Linked DNA regions of Homo sapiens. The protein of the gene in region 1 interacts with the protein of each later gene in a pairwise test. Each region holds a gene or a part of one and is shown on either strand. Other genes may lie near its edges.

Region 1 (7,034 bases):
ATCAGTAAGATTATGCTGCCCTAGAGACAGATGTTAGAAAGCTGTAATATTTAAAAATAAAGAGATAAACACATGGTTGAGAGGAAAGAATAAAATAATTTAGCGTTGAGATAGAATATTAAAAAGAAAAAAGGAAAAGATGGAAAGATAGATTTTATCATACTGTATTGGCACAAGAAATGGCAAATCCTTTCATGTAGGGAAAAACTTTTATATCTGCCTCAGGCAATCATTTACCATTAGGCAGACATTCTTAGAGTGCACTAGGGTAGATCTGTAAGAACTGCTTAGCAGGGCTAATTACGATTACACAGAAAAGACTTACCTCTTGTCACCAGATAAAGTCCAGGCTTTGACTTAAATCCATACACACCAGTTTTCATAAAAGTTTAAACATGAAAAATGTTATATACTTTGGTAATTCACATTCAGTGAACATAAAAACAACATTAAGTAATGATAACTCTGGATTTATCTGGTAACTTTTACTGCAGAGGTCAAGGTACTTTGTCTTCACTTATTTTTACTAGAGAAAAATAATAAAAATAGATTATAATTGTAGGTTATATAAATATTTACAATTGACATACAGTAGCCATGTATTAAGCAAACACATTTTTAAACAGCAGATTCTCCATTTTTGCTAAAATTTTAACACATTTATAAATAAAATGCAAAGAGTAGGAACAGAAAAGTAGAAGGAACTTTGGCTTTGAATTCAAACAGAATTGGGTTCAGATCCAGGATATTTAATTCACTTCTCTGAGCTTCAGTTTCCTCATCTGTAAAACAGGGATAATACTACCTACTTTACAGGGTTGCTGAGAGGGTTAAATATGTAACTAATGAAGGCTCCAGCATTGTGTGTGAACACTGCAGGTACTCAATAAATGCCAAGTGACATAATCACAAAAAAACTAACACAAACAAGCACATTAGAGATTCCAATTTAATTACCGTTTGTCCTTTTCTTAAAATCTCCAAGTTCTGATTGTACAGTAGAAGCTCCTAACTTAACACCTTTTCCCACTGGGAAGGTGATGCCCTCCTCCTCAAAAAAAAGGGAGGGGGGAATAGTATAAAGGAGGAGTTACCAGAGAAAGGAAAAGGAAACTGAATACTTCTTCCAGGAAAGAGGAGGAAGAGGGCATGAGGTCTGACTTCATGGTCCTGACTACTTCACCTCCTCAAGGATGAAAACTCAGGTAAATAATGGTTAAAAAACAAAAACAAAAACTGAAAGCTGGAAATCTTCAAGAGTTTGCCCTGCTTCCTGTTCATCATTCTAAAAGGAGAAAAACTTGCAGGATAACCACACCCAACAGAGGACTACTACAAACAGAATAAAATGGCAGCGTAGTGTGAGTAGGCCAAGAAAGGTTCTGTAATGGCAGGTCTCAAAGTTCCTTGGCTGTTGTGCAGTGGCTCTTGTGTCCAGGTATTCCTTCATGATCCCAGCAGGATATGTGAAAGGTGGTTGTTTATAGAGTTAAGAGTGAGAAGCCATTCTGGTCACTGTGAGATGATCCCCACAGCAGATGCTGCAGAGCAGACAGACTAAGCCAGGGTTCACAGAGTAGATGTGGTTGAGACATGAGGACCTGAAATGCTGTTGAAAAATGAGAAGAAAACAAATGAGAAAGGGAGAGCTATAAGCTCTGACAGCTCTGAAAGAATACTGGTTTAGTTAATGATAGACTGGAACAGCAGATAAAGAAACCCAGTAACTAGTTTGGACTAGATATATCTCCATGGCAGTCAGTGAGAATTCAGATGACTGCACAAAGACCACACACAGATCTGGGGCTCTCTCCCCTCCCTGCCATAAGAACACATGAACCTTTCCTGACATCTAAAGGACATTTCTGCCAGGAGAAAGGGACAGGAAGAACACCAAAAAACTGGGATTTACCCCCAAAGAACCTATTTTAAAACTAAAGAAACTGAGATCATTTTGCTTGTCATCTTTAAATTCTATCTCATCCTACTCCACTCAAAAGAAAATTTATTCCAATTCTAAAGAAATGAAAGGCCTTTTTAGCTCTTGATAAGTTAGATGCAATGTGTCCAACTCTATAAGTCATATTTTCTTTCTGAGGCCTGGACAGGAAACCAAAATAACCATAATGTTTCTTTATTCACAAATTAAAGTGCCCTAATTACATCAGGTAAGAGGAAGTAGGTAATTATATCAGGTAAGAGGAATCATACATACATTATTTTTCTCTCCTTTAAAAAAATTTATTATATGGGTAATTTGAGAGGTCCATTCATTCATTCATTCAATAAATATTTACTCAGTACCTTTTCATCTATCATATGCACACAGAAGTAAATAAGATTGAGGCTGACTATTATGCACAGAGCAGTTAAAAAGCATTTTTGTACAAAATCATTGTTATAGAAAATTCTGTTGCCAGAATAACAAGTGAAGCCAGTTGTAAGAGGTAATACTATGTAAAATCTTATTTTTTAAAGTATATTTGCTATAACAAAAGAGACACAAGATATGGAGGAACAGGTCAGAAAGACTATCATCATTGCCTTTTTCATTTTTGCATGAACAGGCATGCAAAAGAAGTTATATAGCTGTTTTAGTTATCTCAGTAAATACTGCTTGAAAATTTTAAGAAATTAAACTGAAAAAGTCAAATAACACTGTAATAAAGGCTATAGGATAGTTTGTTGTTTAAGAGTATAGGTATTTTTCATAAAGATTCCCTTTAAAATGTTAGTATTATAGTCCTTTTTTTGAGACAGGGTCTTGCTCTGTCACCCAGACTGGAGCACAGTGGTACAATCATGGCTCACAAGAGCCTCAAACTCCTGGGCACAAGTGATCCTCCAGCCTCAGCCTCCTGAGTAGCTAGGACTACAAGCACGCACCAGTATACACCACCACGCTGGCTAATGTTTTTTAGTTTTTGTAGAGACTAGGTCTTGCTATGTTTTCAAGGCTGGTCTTGAACTCCTGGCCTCATGCAAAGCTCCCGCCTTGGCCTCCTAAAGTGCTGGGATTACAGGCATGAGCCGCTGTGCCCACCCCAAGCCCTTAATGTCTTGCTTATTAAGTTCAAAGTTTTACATTATCAGGTTTTCTTAAAGGTGGGCTATGGAAGCCTGACAAATACATGCTATTTGTCGATATGGTGTTATAAACATGAAACAGAATACTATGGCTTTACTTTAAAAAAAAATCCTATAATTTTCCAAAGATATTTATCTATAGAAATGGCATTGTAGAATATTTTCAGAAAGGCTTTTATGGTGGCTCTTTGAATCATTGCCCATTCAAAGAATTTTAAATATTCTATCTAACCTCCTGTACCATAAAGCCCATTGGATTTCATATACTAGAGCATAGAGTACAAAATTTAGGAAAAACCTCTGCTTTTATCAGTTACTTCTGACAAAGTTGGTATTTCAGTCATCCTACATGTACATCATACACTGATTGAAAGGTGACATTGTTAGAGATTATAAATAATTCAACAAATGGCATCTATCTGATTAGTATTTCAAAACAATATTTTATCTCTTCCCAACCCCCTCTTTATCTTCATAGAGTGCAGTTGCATTTGAAATCTATGGTTTCTGGCATATCTGGGGTAAGGTTATACTACGAATTTACCAGACCTGTCAGTCTGTAGGTTTCTTCCATATTTCATTATATCATTCCAGTTATAATTAGTTGTCTGGTAAAATTAAGAACAGTCTATTTCAGTGACTGCTCATGTGAACATTTAACAACTTTTTGTTAGAATGACAGTTTAGCGACACAAAGAATAAACCAGAAAGGGAGAGTCACTGAAGTAACCTTACTTAACTCAATGTTGCCAGCTCAATTGAAAACACTAAGATTTTGCATTTTTTTCATTTTTGTTATTAATAATCAAGCACATATTTCTTGTCAAGAGATAAGCAGCAGTTTGATGACATTCCTGCCTCAACCAGCATGTTTTGAACTGACCTGTCTTCATTGCTATGGCTCCCAAGAAACTCTGCCGTTGACAAGCGTTGATTCAGCTGAATGCTTTGACATTTAGCTTGTCAGTGAAAGCTATTTTAATCATTAAGATGCATTTCCCATCCAAGATTGCAAACTGTTGCTGCTCATACACAACATTCTATCATTTGATTACCGTGGAGAAGAAGAGAACCTGAAAAGTTACTCTTACTATCGATTATATTAAGAGCTAAAATTTATTGATTATTTTACTGTGTGTGAGGAGTTGTGCTTAGCAATTTACATAGATTGACTCATTTAATCTTCTCAATCATGGAGTCTGACCACCTGAGTTTGCATCCTTGTTTTCCACTATCTGTATAACATGCAGCCCTCCCTGTGACATGATTTCCTCAACCACAAAATGGAGTAATAGTACCTACCTCACAGGCTTATTATGAGGAATAAATGAAACACATCATTAACAGTGCTTAGAATTAATACCTGCAAAACAGTGCGTTTTCATAGTGTGAAGAGCAATTTTTATTACCATTTTTTAGATGAAATCAACCAGTTCTTCACCAACTGTCCTGCTCAGCATCACTTCTAACTCTGTCTCTGTTCCCAAATCCAAAAGTACAGATAGGGAAAATGAAAAATATTTTTTTTAGGACATTTTTTCTATAGGTATTTGAACTCCAGCTCCACAGGAGGGAGCACCACAATTGTAGAAGGATAGTACTTTTGCAGTATGAGCCTTTTAAATGTTTTTCCTGTTCTTTCTTTCTTCACTGTAGCCTTTCTCCATTCAGGGAGCTAGACCTATGTGCTGGTGAATCCCTATTAAATGGGATGCAAGTGAAGATTTAGACAGTTTTGGGGACTTCAGAGGAGAGGGGTCATTTGTCCCAGGTTTAATTAGTGGCATAATGGCAGCAAGATAACAGAATCCCATAGTTTTCCACGCCCAAGTTTGTGAAGCAGCAGAATAAATATATGTCAGGTGTTTATGTAGACAACCTCAGACAGCCTAACAGAGTTCCCTGGGCCATGCCATGGAGTGAGAGCAGCTGTATGATCCCATTGCTTCTAACTGGGCATGGAAGCAAAACTTCTCAAAGTCCAGAGCACCACTAGGATGTTTCCTATTGTGGCAGAAACTATGCTGTGTTGTTGCTGAACTCCTTCCTTTCTTTCCTGAGCACAAAGCTAAACTAAATATCATAGCCTCCCCTGCAGTTAGTTGGGTAAGACTTGACTTTTAAAACCTTTATTAACCACTATATACATTCTTTTCTCTCATCTGCTAGTTGAATGTATATGAACCAGTTGAAGGTCTTATGATCCTAGAAAATGACAAGAGTCATTGAATTAGGAGTTCTTAACCTGGGATCTATTTAATAAGATGTAGGAGAACCATGACCTTGGATTTGGAACAAAAACAATTCTGTATTTTCATCAACCTCTAACTGAAATCTGGCAATTCTTTAAATTATGAACATAGGAATCAATGCACAGTAGTATTAGCAATACTTGAGACTTTGTCACCAATAAAACTCATAGGTATTTTCATATCACATTATAGATACTTAAGGTATCTTAAATATCATTTATACTAAAATTTACTTTGAAATAATAGTAATTATTAGGCTATTCAATATGCTAACACAAAGCACATATATTACAACAAAAGTATTTTTAAAATAGTTTGATAACTATATCAATGAAATTGTTTTCCTTTGTAATCTGGTATAATTTTTACATCTTTTAAAAATTTTTCTGCTTCACCAGATTGCCAAAGGGAGCTACAGAAAATTAAGAATCCCTGTCTAAATGATCCCTGAATGATACCATGGAGTAGGGTCCATCTTTTCCCCTCTACTCCACATCACCACCACACTGATGACCCACATTGTACTATGATGTGAGAAATAAGATTTTATTGGGTTAAGTTACTGAGATTTGGAAGTTAATTTTTAGAGCAGTTAGCCTGTGCAGACTAATACTCATATACCCTTGCTACCAAAATGGTAAGAGACCTCCGGTTGGAAAAGACCCAGAAGTGAATCCTGAGGATCAAAGATTGGATGGGGCCATTGAATATGTCTCAGCAGATAACAACTCAGAAAGACGGTGAAGCTCAGTCTAGGAAACATTTCCTTCAACTTAGAAATAAAGTTCAATTACGGTATCATAAAGAAACAGTTCAATTATTCTTGAATTTGTATGCTGAAATTTATAACTGTGACACAACAATGAATTTTCTTATTTATTATTTCTCTCTTCTTTTACTACAGTGGCAGTTATTTTGTTTCTCATAGCAGATATTAAGTGCTTTTGAATTCATCAGTTTTATAGGTGTGTGTGTGTGTGTGTGTATATATATATATATGGTTTTAAAACAACCTCTGATTAGCTCTGTTCTCAGCTAGAGTTTAACAATGAAGAGAAGCAAATAACTACAAAGATGAGATCAATACTGTGTAAGTCCTTCTACGAAGGAATTTGAAAGTTGAAATTTTTTTTAAAAGGTTTGTGCATTCAAAGAGTCTTGAGAGAGCCCTCCAGGGTTTTCAAGACAGGTGTAAATTTGACAACGCTTTCTCAAGGCATCAAGTTTTAATTTCATCTTTGCTTTTAGACTGTTCTGCCGGCTTTATTTTTTAGAAAAAATGAATCAGTCACTGTGAAACTTTCAGGTTATTAAAAGTCAGATGCAAAATCTCCTCTGAGGACAGATTCTTTCTAACCACCAAAGACTTACTGTATCTAAATTTTTATAACATACTGAACTGTAACTGAATGAAAATAAAATGGGATTAGTGTGTTATAGCTTCGGTTTTGGCATTAAAATGCAAAAAAAAAGTCCATTTATTCTTAAATGCTATATAATATAAACATCAGTCTGTCTTGATCACTGCTGTATACTCAGCTCCAAGCCTAATGCCTGACAAATATTTTTATGAATGAGTAGACTAATCAAATAGCACTTACTGAAATTATATACAGAATACACTATTTATGACTAGACTTTGCCATGAGAAGTTGCTGCCTTTCATACATGTAAGGGTAAGGTGACTAGATTAAG
Region 2 (7,034 bases), on another chromosome or scaffold:
CTTTTCTCCTGGCTACTTCAGGACTTTTGAGGGCTAGGGGAGAAGCTAATTCATCTTTGCATCTTCTGTGCTGAACACATCTGGGACTTGTAAAAGTTTTCAGAATGAATGGATGCTCTGTCTGAACCTGTCCTCCGTCCTGTCAGCTCTTCCTAGAGCCCCTTCTGCCTCTTCTTTGCAGTACTTGCTACTGAGGTTTTCCCACTTGAATCAATTTAGCCTGAATTCTTCCAACGGCCTTTCTGATCGCACAACTTCTCTTTAAAAAGTTCTCCCCAACTTTACCCTACTCCATTCAAACACCTGGCCCAACCCAACGATTCCATTTCTTCTGTAGCCTCCCTGAACCCACAACCTCAACTCCACAAACATGTCTGCCCAAGAAAAGTCCCATTTAATCATATCTGCTTTTAAATCTCACTTGTGTTTCTCTTAGCCCAATCCAGATTGAGGGTGTGTCACATGACAGGTGTTCAGCAAATATTTGTTGAATGAATTCTGAATTTCACTGCAGGGAGGGGGCATGTTTTTCTCCCAGTTCCACAAAGAAGAAGGTTTCTTGCATCTTCTTACTCAAAAAATGATCCTGAGCCTGTGGTTCCTGTTTTTGGAGATCATCTCCACTACTCAATGGAATTGAATTAATTTTTTAGATTTGACTGTTACGTAGGCTAGAATTTAAAAGCTAGCTGAAGCCAAGGTATGTGATATCCATTGCTTTCCTGTGTCACCAAAGTCTGTCCCTCTGTTACAGAAGGAAATTAAATTGGTCTGACATAATTTAATCCTCATAAAATCAGTCTGCTGGATTGATTTTTAATTCTGTTGCCTGGTGGGGGTCTCCAAGGAGAAAGGAAGTCTCTGAGGTTGCCATGACCCAACCTAGCTCAGTCATTCCATTCATTAATAACTTCCTAGCTTCATCTCAGTGTAATCACAAGCCCCAAAAATTGCATCCTTAAGCACACTTTTTTTCTAATTTCTCCAGAGAAAACATTTCAAAACTTTCTAAAGGACTTGTACTTTACATTTTTAAATTGCTAAATCATTGTCTTAGTATAATAGAGGTTTGCAGAATTACAGACAGCAAAATGATTTACCTAAATAAACTGAAAGATAGTCAAATAAAATGGACAGCATTTAATATCACCATTACCCATCATTTATTAATGACTTACTGGGGCCTGGTGCTTTATTGGGCACTTTGAATTTTCTCATTGAATCCTCACTTCAGGAACGAGGCAGGAACTATAGCCACCCTCCTTTTACAAGTGAGGAAATGAGGCTGGAAGTCTGCAAGTAACTTTTCCCAGTTCCAGCCTGGAATCTAGTTCTATCCATTTCCAAAGCCTCTACTCCTAAATACTGCCTTCCTGATTAATAGGGGATATGCTATGAAATTCTTGATTTTACAGTTCACTAAACTCAAAGTCAAGTCTGATCTCTTGATTCTACTCTGATCTCAGACAGCACAATTGTCTTCTGCATCATCTCTAAGGATGGAATATCTTTTCCCTAAGGAAGGAGGCTTTCCCATAACTTTATGAAGCAGTTCTCCTGTGAGACTCTTCCTGCTTCCTTGTAATTTCTACCCGGTGAACTCCAGACCCATGTGATCAAGTCTTGCACAGACAACTCTTTCAATATTTGAAGATGGCTGTCACATCTCTTACCATTGGTCTTCCAGGTCAAATACATGCAGTTCCTTCAATCACTTCTCACACCTCAGGTAGGCCTGACCACATTCTCTAAATACACTACTCGGTTTGTCAAAGTCCCTCTTGATACAAGGGACCTATGGCTAACTCCAAGCTACTGATGTCAGCTGAACGGCATAGGGCAATACAAGGTGTGCTATGATATGGTCATTGAACAAACCTCTCTTGGTGCATGTAAAATCAGGTTAGGATTTGTTTGTTTTCCTGCTGTTGTTGTTGCCATATTACCTTGAAGACTCACATTAAGCTTATGATTAGTTAAAATCCTTAGATCTTTCTTTATAATCAAATTTAAGTTTTATGACATCAAGGACATTGTATTTTCTCTGCTATGTACCCAGCACCTGGTACAGTGACTAGAACGTAGGTGGCGCTCAATAAACGTTTGTTGAATGAATGAATTTCTTTCCTTATGAATCCTGAATTGGTATAATTGACTTCAGTAACCCAAATAAGGAATTTTTGCATTTATTTCTGTTAAATTTCATCTTATTGGTTTCAGTTTAACGTTTAAATTTGCTGACCTTGATTCATTTTGATAGAGCTATGAAAACAATATTCTAGGTCTTTGTTTCTCTGTGTTGACAGAATAAGATAAAAGACATCTTTTTTTGCTCTTTTGTTCACTGAATAGACATTTGGCACAAAGATGACCTGAAGAAGTTACTATTATAGGGAAGAAAAACATAAAAGTGGACACCGTTCAGGTCAGCATTGTCCATGGTCCATACTAGAAGGGCATGTAGAAAAGCATTAGAGGCATTCAGGAACTAAGCAGTTTTTTTCTGCCTGGGGAGGGGTCAGTGTGTATACAGACCCCTGCAGGAGCCCAGCAGAGGAAGGGGGACTGTCCGAGCCAACCCTCCCACCCTGGAGAGGAACAGGAGTGCAGCCCAGCTGGCCTGACTCCATCCCCGAGAGTGAGAGCACCTGTGGAGAGGACAGCCAGGGCTTCCTGGTGGATAAACCCCCTCCACCCACACCCCAGCTGCCTTGACTTACCTGTTACCGCTTGTGGTTCTATCTTTGAATAACTAGTGATTAATGTCTGCTTCCGTCAAGGATGACTGTTAGGTTTGGTAAGGCAAGGGTTCTGTTGGGTTAGATAAGGTTTCATTTCACACACAGTCCTATCCCTGTACCTAACGCTGTTCTGGCTACATCAGGACCCTGAGTAACTTCTCATAAATGAATAAATCTAAAACTTCTGTTTGTCAATTTCTTCTTGTAGACCCCAGAGATGATGTTCTCTTTCCTCATCAGTTCTCTCTGCTCAACTTTTTGTTGTCTGTCTGATGGGCTGCACAGTAAGAAAACATCCCCACCTTCCTTACACCCCTTTTGCCAAACACAAGCCTTTTTGTTATAAGCTGTTTCTTAAAATCACTGCAAGAGACAAGTGGTAACAAACCTAGGCAGTTTGTAAAGGTTTAGGCAGCCTCATGTTCCCATGGCCCTTGTCTCCTGGGCAGAGTATCATGTTGTGCCATTGGCTCTCCAGACACTTTGAGAGTCTAGTGATGGTACCTGTCACACTGCATTGCCAGGGCTTGGTCATTCCTCTGTCTCTCTAGTTAGTCTGTGAGCTCTTCCAGGTTGGGGATCACATGATTGATATTTGCATGCCTGGCATCTTCCACACATTTGTTGAATGACTGTGAAAATGAATAAATGAATGAATGATCTAGCTGTGCAAATGAAGCTTAGTCTGTCATTCTTATAACCTCTTTCCTGAGTCTCATCTTAGATGCTTTTGTCTTAGATATCAGTCCATTGAACCTTGTCTTCATTGGACATTAGATAAAACAATTCCAACCCTAGCCAAAGATGAATTTAAGGTGACTCCACTGCAGGGTGTAGTAGTATCCTAAGTGCATTCCAGAATTTCCTCCAGAATATGTAGAAAGAATGAATAAGACCTACTATTTGATAGCACAATGGGATGACGATAGTCAATAATAACTCAACTGTATATTTTTAAATAATTTAAAGAGTGTAATTGGATTGTATGTAACTCAAAGGATAAATGCAGATTTTTTTTTCTGCAAAAAACATTGCAGATTTTTTTTTCTTCGGTTAATAGGCCCTGGTGGGAAGAACCTAGTCTTCTCTGAGTCAGAAAGGGGTCTTTTCCTGGCTCATTCTGCACTCAGCAATCCCTCAGGTTTGGACTCCTGGAGGTCCAACCTTCACCCTGGGATCTGTGCACCTGTGATCCATAGCATCTTCCTGCTGATAAGGCCATTCTGCCCTTGTGAAGTTGGGTGTCTAAACCTGTTCTCGGACAATGGTGCTGTGCCATTCATCCCAGGAGCCCTCCCATGTCAGGCCTACAGCCTCGAGACACTCTCAGCAGACCTTTGGCCTCCGCTGCAAAATCCTATCCCTATAAAGACTCCTTCAGAGCCTCTCTGGCCAGTCTATATGCCACATTTACTCTCCTCTGCAGAGCAGACTCGAGGGGTTTACCCTGAGCCCAATCATGATATAGCTCCTGCTAGCTTGGCTACCAGGAACGCTTGCTTCCTCACATGCCTGACTCCCACTCTGTCTCATGCCCAACCACAGCCATCTCTCTTGAGAATGTTGTTCTTTTAGAATGTTGTTATGTGCTGATTTGTGTCTCCCCCAATTCACATGTTGAAGCCCTAACCCCCTCTCTACCCCGGTACCTCAGAATGTGACCTTATTTGGAAAGAGAATCTTTAAAGAGGTAATCAAGTTGAAATGAGTTCATTAGGGTGGGCCCTAATCCAGAATGACTGGTGTCCTTATGAAAAGGGGAAATTTGGAGATAGAGAGACACACAGGGAGAACTCCATGTGGAGATGAAGGCAGAGACCGGTGATGCTGCCACCAGCCAAGGAGCATCAAGGAAAGTCCACTGAAAACCACTGGAAGCTCAGAGAGAGGCAGGGGACAGATTCTCCCTCAGGGCCTCCAGAAGGAACCAACCCTGCTGATATCTTTTTTCATTTTTGATTTCTGTGGGTACATAGTAGGTGTATGTATGCATGGAGCACATGAGATGTTTTGATACAGGCATGCAATGTGAAATAAGCACATCATGGAGAATGGGGTATCCATCACCTCAAGCATTTATCTTTTGAGTTGCAAACAATCTAGTTATACTTTGTTATTTCAAAATGTATGATTAAGTTATTATTGACTATAGTCACCTTATTGTGCTGTCAAATAGTAGGTCTCATTCATTCTTTCTGCCTTTTTTTGTTTGTTTGTTTTTTGTAACCGGCCTGCTGATATCTTGGTCCTGGACTTCTGGCCTCCAGAACTGGGAAACAGCAGGTTTCCGTTGTTTAAGCCATGCGGTTTGTGGCACTTTGTTATGGCAGCCCTAGCAAACTAATGCAAGTGTGTTTATGAGCACTAACACTGTGAACATTTGGAAATAATAAGAGAGACGGATTTCCACTGTTACTTCCTCACACTTTTTTCTGAGATTGGATCTATTTCCTGGCTGTTTAGATTCAAATAGCATTTATTTGTATCTACTATTTGCATTTACTATATGTGAGAATTTTTCTTTTTGACACTAGTTTATATCACCCTCCGAAATAACCTCATAAACCATTGTTCTCATCACTTGCCAGATGAGGAGCTGGGATTCAGTGAGATGAAGAGACTGAGCCAGGCCACCAGCTTGGAAGTGGGAGAGCTAGGATCAGAATTCAGGTCTCTTGTTTCTGAATTCAGGGCAGGGTCCATTGTGCTGTGCTGCTAAGCACGAATGTAGTACCCTCCCCCCACCCCATCTGCCTTGGGCTTTTCTGAAAATATTAACCATTTAGCGTGGGAGCCTCCTGCTAGCATTTACAAGGCTGAGTCCTGCAGCTCTGCGGTGCTTACACTGCCCTCTCCCTGTGCTGAGTGCCCGTGCTGCTCCAATCTCCATCTCCATAGAAAGGGTTGCAGGAGGTGCCCCAGGTGTCACCTGCATCCCAGTCACCTGACAGGCCCATTAAACAGGAACAGTCTTTAGGCAGAATCATATATTTTTTTCTGGTTTCAAATGCAGTGCATGCTCCTAATTAAACATTTAAAAAGCATAGAAAAAGCACACAGAGGAAAATAATGCCTCTCTCAGCATTTAGGTTTCATCTTTCAGGTCCCATGAAGACGATGCTGTATTTGCATCTTATACGTGAAGGTGATGTTTAAAGTTCCGGATGGGGGGATGGGAAAAATTCCTCAAACTGCTTGGAAGCTCAAAAACCAAGAAAAATTATATTTGTTCATTTTTGTATTTAGGAAACTATATGGAGGTAGTGGGAGCCCAAGTCTAGTTTGAATGGAGGAAGAGAAAGGGGGAAAGGTCATGGAGAAGTAAAGGGATTTTTCTTTTTTTCTTTCAATACTGGGCAAATATACTTGAATTCAGGCAAATTACATACCAGGTAATTACTGTAGGTGATTCCTCCATGTTTCCCTCTTACCTCCCCCTCAAGCCCCCACAACAGGCTCAGGCTGAGTATGCTGTTCTATATTTTTCCTAGCTGTTTTCTGGGATTTAGTCTCTTTATGGGTTGTATTAGTCTGTTTTCATGCTGCCGACGAAGACACACCTGAGACTGGGTAATTTATAAGGAAGAAGAGGTTTAATGGACTCACAGTTCCATGTGGCTGGGGAGGCCTCACAATTATGATGGAAGGTGAAAGGCACATCTCACATGGCAGCAGACAAGAGAAGAGAGCTTGTGCAGGGAAACTCCCCTTTATAAAACCATCGGATCTCATGAGACTTATTCACTATTATGAGAACAGCATGGGAAAGACTCACCCCCATGATTCAATTACCTCCCACCTGGCCCCTCCCACAACACGTGGGAATTGTGGGAGATACAATTCAAGATAAGATTTGGGTGGGGACACAGCCAAACCATATCATGGATATAGAAACATGGCTGTGTGTGTGTGTGTGTGTCTGTGTGTCTGTGTGTATGGCTGGGTGTGTCTGTGTGTGTGTGTGTGCAGGGACCAGCTTTCTGAGTCTCAAATGCCCTTGAGGTCAGACAGGTTGGCTGCCCAGAGCTATGGCTGGTACCACTCCATAGGCTTCCAGCTCTAGGTCTTTGTGTCAGATGGGATAGGTACCTAATGTCTGCCTACATCTCACCATGTGGCTTCTGTGTAATGAAGCAAAACCAAAAGTCTGGGTAGGTTTTTCTTAATCTAACACAATCTGCTTTACAAATGATGCCAGCTTCTCCTAGATTCTGGGATTAGGTTGCCTACCAGTCTTCACTTGTGGTGATGTTGTGAGTCTTGGTCTTTTTCTATGTCTTCACAGGCATTTTA

What was found.
Region 2: the proteins of NAA11 (region 1) and BAALC interact in binary tests that used the Homo sapiens proteins (3 or more experiments, as listed by UniProt).

The regions. Positions count from the first base shown.
Region 1 is NC_000004.12:79,316,183-79,323,216, forward strand, and holds the end of NAA11 (N-alpha-acetyltransferase 11), read right to left. Parts: intron 1,610-7,034; 3' UTR 465-1,609; downstream 1-464.
Region 2 is NC_000008.11:103,143,693-103,150,726, forward strand, and holds part of BAALC (brain and acute leukemia cytoplasmic protein), read left to right. Parts: intron 1-7,034. UniProt on the Homo sapiens protein: May play a synaptic role at the postsynaptic lipid rafts possibly through interaction with CAMK2A.